2 linked regions of the Homo sapiens genome follow. The protein of the gene in region 2 interacts with the protein of the main gene of each other region in a pairwise test. Each region holds a gene or a part of one and is shown on either strand. Other genes may lie near its edges.

Evidence for each region.
Region 1: the proteins of PEDS1-UBE2V1 (region 2) and CNR2 interact in a two-hybrid assay, tested with the Homo sapiens proteins (one large-scale study listed by BioGRID).

Annotation. Positions count from the first base shown.
Region 1 is NC_000001.11:23,872,657-23,875,648, forward strand, and holds part of CNR2 (cannabinoid receptor 2), read right to left. Parts: 5' UTR 2,962-2,992; coding exon 1,879-2,961; 3' UTR 1-1,878. UniProt on the Homo sapiens protein: Heterotrimeric G protein-coupled receptor for endocannabinoid 2-arachidonoylglycerol mediating inhibition of adenylate cyclase. May function in inflammatory response, nociceptive transmission and bone homeostasis.
Region 2 is NC_000020.11:50,126,183-50,130,000, forward strand, and holds part of PEDS1-UBE2V1 (TMEM189-UBE2V1 fusion protein), read right to left. Parts: intron 3,509-3,818; coding exon 3,364-3,508; intron 2,006-3,363; coding exon 1,793-2,005; intron 1-1,792. Other genes in the region: PEDS1 (plasmanylethanolamine desaturase 1), read right to left, coding at 1,793-2,005, 3,364-3,508.

The sequences.
Region 1 (2,992 bases), on a different chromosome or scaffold from region 2:
CATCTGTAAAATGAAGATAACTAAGACCTTCTTATTAGGTTGTTGGGAAACATGAAGTGAAATAAGGCATTTAAAAACACTTAGCCCCCTGCCTGGCACATAGTAAAGGCTCAATAAAAGTGAGCCGGCACATGGTAGGTCTATCCTACCGTTTATTGAGTTAACTCAATTAATCCCTATTACATGACATGAACCTGCATATTTCCTTTGTTGTACTGCCTGTAATTATCTTCTTTATTGACTTATTGGCTGTCTTGCAAGCAGGATATAGACTGTAAGCCCCATGAGACAGGGGCACAGTCTCATTTATGGCTGGGTACTCAGGACCCTGCACAGAGCCTGGCTCATGTTTATGAGATGAATGAATAAGTGAATAGCTAGTGGATATTTTGTCTTGAAAGTATTAAACGAAGACATGTTTAACCAATATCTTTCATTTTATTCCATTTGAGGTCCCAAATAATTGCATTAGAATTCCTCTGCAATCTTCCTGCCGCCAACAATTTCTCTTGTTGGCTGTTTTAGGCTCCTCTGGGAGGAACCCAGCCTCCCTCATATGAAAAATGAGTACCCTGGGATCTATTTTATTTTATTTTTTTGAGACAGTCTTGCTCTGTCACCCAGGCTGGAGTGCAGTGGTGCAATCTCGGCTCACTGCAACCTCTGCCTCCAGGGTTCAAGCAATTCTCCTGTCTCAGCCTCCCGAGTAGCTGGGACTACAGGTGCCTGCCACCATGCCCTGCTAATTTTTGTATTTTTAGTAGAGACAGGGTTTCACCATATTGGTCAGGCTGGTCTCAAACTCCTGACCTCAGGTGATCCACCTGCCTTGGCCTCCCAAAGTGCTGGGATTACAGGCATGAGCTACCATGCCTGGCCCCTGAGATCTTTAAAATCATGGAGCTATATTCTAGCTGGGGTCAATAGACTGAAATGTCAGCCCCATACCTGGCATATAGGAAGGACATTTCCCCTCCTCCCACTTGCTCTGCTTATTATATGTAATAGGGGTGTGGAGGAGGCAAGGGAGCTGAATTGGGGGCAGATAGGGGAACAGTTTGGAGATTTATACAATCTTTGTGAATATCTTCCTTTTTTTCTTCGAGTTAGGTTAGACTAGGACATTGCCTGCTTCCAGCAGCACCACCAGGACTGCTGCTGGAAGGACTTCAGAGGGTCAAGAAAATTCTCCAAAGATTTTTGTGTCTCAGGCGATCCCAGCCTCCTCTGTATTTCCAGGGACCTGAGGTTACAGGTGGGGATTATCAGAATATCAGAGAGGGTCCTCGCCCAAACAACAGGATGCCCCAAACTGAAGGCTTGTCATTTATCTCTGAAAGAGGCAAGTCAACACCTTAATCCTCATCATAGCATAGTCCTCGGTCCTCAGTGGCAAGGGTGACTTGAAAGTGGGGCCTTTCATAGCTCCAGAGCCAAGGAGGCCTTGACAATTAGGCAGAGAGAAGACCTGGATGTCCATCCCATCTGATACCCTGACTTCCCAAGAGAACAACCCATTCTTCTCAGATTTCTCCCAAGTCCCTCATTGCTGGGCCTGGAGGCTCGCTTTGGCTCCTGTGGTCTCTGGAGGATGCAGGCATGAAGCCTGACCTGACTTGTACTGACCCTGTCCCAGGCCTTTTGTGTCTCGCCTACCTGGCTACTCCTCGTGGCCCTACCTATCCAACAGACTGTGTGCAGGTGGGCAAGGCCAGGCTGTCTTCCAGGAGTCAGTCCCAACACTCATCAGCAAAAAGGGGTCCGTGTCTAGGTGTCTGGGACTGGTTTAAGTAAGAAGAGAGTGCCAAGACCCCTCTCTCTCTTCCAGGGAGTGAACTGATTTCTGACTTGAGTTGTTTAAATTGGGAAGAGGCCTCATCAGCAATCAGAGAGGTCTAGATCTCTGGAATCTGGCCACGGAGTGATTTTCCCATCAGCCTCTGTCTCGGTGACTGAGGATCTCGGGGCTTCTTCTTTTGCCTCTGACCCAAGGCCCCTCACACACTTCTTCCAGTGAGCCAGGCAGTGATGGGCAGAGGAGCGGATCTCTCCACTCCGTAGAGCATAGATGACAGGGTTGACCATGGAGTTGATGAGGCACAGCATGGAGCAGAAAGCAAAGGCCTTCTTGACCTGGTCACTGAGCGTAGTGGCCAGGCTGTGGGCCATGAGGGCCAGCACTGGGAACCAACAGATGAGGAGCACAGCCAACACTAGCCCTAGGGTCTTGGCCAACCTCACATCCAGCCTCATTCGGGCCATTCCTGGCACCTGCCTGTCCTGGTGGCCAGACAAGCTGGCCACATGCTGATGGGCCTTCCAGAGAACATGCCCATAGGTGTAGATGATTCCGGAAAAGAGGAAGGCGATGAACAGGAGCCAGCTCAGCAGGTAGTCATTGGGGATCAGTGGGAAAAGCTCAGAGCAGGGCCTGGGACAGCAAGTCCATCCCATGAGGGGCAGGTAGGAGACTAGTGCTGAGAGGACCCACATGATGCCCAGGGTCACCAGTGCCCTTCCACGGGTGAGCAGAGCTTTGTAGGAAGGTGGATAGCGCAGGCAGAGGTATCGGTCAATGGCGGTCAGCAGGAGGCTACCCACAGAGGCTGTGAAGGTCATAGTCACGCTGCCAATCTTCAGCAGGAAGACAGCCTTGGAATCCACACCATGGAAAACATGGAAATTCACAAAGCTGCATGCAAAGACCACACTGGCCAGGAAGTCAGCCCCAGCCAAGCTGCCAATGAACAGGTATGAGGGCTTCCGGCGGAGTTGGTGGGAGGACAGGATCAGATAGAGCACAGCCACGTTCTCCAGGGCACTTAGCAGGCCCAGAAGAGTGCACAACACAGCAACAGCTGTCTTCTGGGGACCACTCAGGATCATGTAATCCTTCATAGGGTTGGAATCCAAGCCATCCTTGGAGCCATTGGCTATCTCTGTCACCCAGCATTCCTCCATGGGGTGGGCCCTTCAGATTCCACTGAGCTTG
Region 2 (3,818 bases):
TTAGAATACAGCCAGGCGCAGAGTAGGTGCTGAATAAATATTGCTCACAATCTTACAGCCTTCCAGCTCACCATGAGGTAGATACTAATATCAGTCCCATTTTCCACATGAGCACACTGAGGCTTAGAGAAGAGTTTCCCAATTAGCAGGTGGCCAAACCAGGATTGGAACTCAGCCCTGCCTAAGTAGTTAACCCATCTCCTAAATAGCCTGAATTCTAATCCCTCCACCTGCCTTCCAAGGAGCACAAATTGAGGACATGAAAAAGAATGTTTTTTTGTGGTTCTCAGTTCTGTTTCCAGAAAGACCTAAAAAAAAATAGTAGCTGTAATTTATCAAGTACCTACTATATGCCAAACACCGCATTTGCCATTCCCACTATGGCCCTAAGAAGGTGATATATGAAGGAGGCGGCTGCAGCCCTATTTTGTAAGGAGAAAAGCGGTCCCCAGGGAGGTTTGTGAGTTGCCTAAAGGCACATGTGGAGAAGCTGAGAGTTAGGCCTGAGTTAGACTTGACAGCACCTGATACACTTAACCTTGAAAGCAGCCCAGCTGGCTCCAGAGAAACTCCCAGTTCACCTCACCTCTTTCGCACTGGCTGCTAACTGAGCATGGCACGTGGGCCTCCTTTCCCTTCCTCCACTGCACTGGGCATGTTCCTGCCTCTGGCCTGCTGCTTCCTGTTACCTTTGCTCTAATCTGTGCTCATCTATCTTCAGGGCCCTCCCACACTTCTCTCCTCCCTCTTCAGTTGCTCTGCCCCCTTCTCTCCTCCCTCTTCCACTGCTCTGCCCGCTTCTCCCTCTTCCATTGCTCTGCCTCAACTCCAGTCAGGAGCCTCTTTGCCATTCCGGAAACACACCAAGCAAGCAAAGGCCAGCCTCAGGGCCTTCGCACCTACTGTTCCTGCTGCCTAGAGTGCCTCCCACAGAGGTCTGCACGGCTTTGTCCCTCAGCTCCTCGGGGTCTTTGTTCAAGTGTCACCTTCCCTGACCACCCGATTTAAGAGGCAAAGCCCCCACTTCCTTCTCCCACCCCTGCTTTATTTTCCTCCATAGCAGTTAGCACCATTAGCCACGCTACACATTTTATTCATTCGTTCCAGCTCCCTCACTAGATGGTGAGTGCCACAAGGGCAAGGATCCGTGTTTTCTGGTTTTTTTTTTTTTTTTTTTTTTTTTGAGACAGTCTCTGTCACCTAGGCTGGAGTGCAGTGGTGCGATTTCAGCTTACTGCAACCTCCACCTCCCAGGTTCAAGCAATTCTCTTGCCTCAGCCTCCCGAGTAGCTGGGATTACAGGTGCCTGCCACCAAGCCCAATTAATTTTTTTTCGTATTTTTAGTAGAGATGGGGTTTCACCATGTTGGCCAGGCTGGTCTCCAACTCCTGACCTCAAGTGATCCACCCGCCTTGGCCTCCCAAAGTGCTGGGATTCCAGGCATGAGCCACTGCGCCCAGCTGATTCATGCTATTTTGTTTGCTGCAGGAGCCTACGCCCAAAGCACCATGGCATGTGGTAGGTGCTCAATAAATACGGGATGATGGGTGGCTGGAATCACAACGCCATGAAGTCGAGGGAGAGGGCTTTGTCAGTCTCATTTACTGTGTCCTCAGCACCTAGAATAGTGCCTGGCACACAGTAGGTGCTCAATAAATGCATGACCTGAGAGACTGTTCCCAGAGGGCAAGGACTGTGTGACCTCCTGCTGTGATCTCTGCCCTCCTGACCTCGAAGATGGTGCAGTGGCTGGGGTGGGGAAAGCCCATTCCACGCCACTGGTGGCCGCACCTGTGGTGATGCAGAAGTAGGTCTCGTGGGGTGAGACGTGGTGGATGCGATGGTGTTTACGTGGCAGGATGACATGCCAGTCCTGCAGGAGGGTGACCCAGCGTGGCAGCCCAAAGTACGTGTGCGACCACTTGTGGATCTGGTTGGTGAAGGTGCCGAAGATGATCAGGCAGAAGACGAAGCACTCCCAGGGGTATAGCTGCTCCAGGGCTTCTGCAGGTTGGGGAGAGGGGGGGCCGGCACAGCTGTCACTCGGGACGGGGAACCCACCCCAAATGGCCCTCACCACCTGCTCCTGGGCGGCTCCTGAGCTGGGCAAGCACCCAGGATTCTCTTCCACCCCCTGCAGGGCCGCAGGCAAGCTCAGGTGCTGCCCTGGGCTTCAGGCTTTCCTCCTGCTCAGGAAGCAGGCGTAATGGTGTAATAGGATAATGGCATAAGCATGGCAATGGCTGGGAATGTAGACCGGAGTCAGCTGGAGCTGGGTTCCGATCTCTGCCGACATTTCTTGGCAGTATGGGCTGGATCGGTGACTCTGCCTCTAAGAAGCTTAATTTCCCCATCAGGAAAATGGGAATGATGCCTTCACCCAGGTTCCCTAGAAGCGGAGCCTGAAACAGGTTCTTGTGCATGTGATTTATCAAGGGAGCCTCTTCAGGAAAAAACCTCGAAGGGAGGGAGGGAAGCAAGACACGGCAGGGGAAGAGCAGAGCAAAGATGGGGTGGGTGGCGTCCTGTCTCAGTCTGTTCCTGCAAGGAGCTCTGAGGTGTTAACGGCTCTTTAGAATTAGACCCACTCAGAGGCAAAGGGACTAGCGTCGGAGGCGTTTCAGTCACTGGCTCCAGCCTTATCCCAAGGAGACAGGTGGGACCTCCCCTCCATCCCTGGAGAAGCTGGGAGCTGTCAGCAGCCACCACTCACAGAAGCAGGGGCTGGGTGCACCCCCAGGGAAGGGGATGGGCAGGGTGCCATAGCACCCACTACACTACACGTCCTCACCACCTCTACCCACCGGAGGCTGCCTGAAGAACAAATGGGTGTTAAGGTGCTGGAACAGGACCGGGCCCCAACCTACCTCCACCTGACAGATAAGGCAACTGAGGCTCAGAGTGGTGAAATCACTTACTTTGGGACCAGTCCCTCTAAAAATAGGCAGGCCCTGTTTTCACAGCCTAGACATTTTCCACTAGGCCACGGTAGCAAAACCCCAGAAGCCCTGCCAGGCAGGTAACACAAATGAACAAGGTGGGTTGGGTGCAGGGAAGCAAGGAATAGTGGGGACGGTGGTAAACTGGAAAGACGCGTCCTGTCAAAGGCAGTGGCTGCAGCTCAGCTCCCACCCAGTGAGGCCAGGTGGGAACATGGACCCAGGGGGGCCAGAGCAGATTGTGCAAGAGAAGCTGGAAACCTCCATCTTCATGTCAGGTTTCCTGATTTTACATGAAGACAATGAATGAAAACTCTTTTAAAATACCATAAGGAGCCAAACACATAAGCCCCAGAAGGCTCCTGGGGGTCGGCCTCTGCCCCCAAGGCCCCCTCCCAGCCCACCACTAGCTGGGTGTCTCACCAGGGCTGTGGGTGCGGAACTTGTAGGCCATGTTTAGCAGCGGCAGCAGTGTCACCAGGCAGTTGTCCCCGTTGGTCTCGATGAAGTCGTGCCGTGTGATAGCTGTCGGGTCAATGTGGTGCTCCCGGAAGGGTCGGATGAAAGCCTGGAGTTGAGGGGGACACAGCCCCAGCAGTCAGCCTAAGGTGGTCAGCTGCTCTCCACAGCCCCCTAAACACATTCACCCTGGGCTCACCTCCCGCCTTTGATCCTAAGTTTCCTCCACCCGGGATGCTTGAACATTCCCACCTGGCCCACTGCCAGACACAGACCCCATCCAGCCTTTGGGGAGATGAGCCGAAATGACCCTGGAAGGGCTTTGGGTTGGCACTGTCTGCCTCTGGGCCTCAGTCTCCCTACCTGTGCTGTAAGGGGGCTTGGAGACAACCTCCGCCCTTCCTCCCCACCCCAAGGCA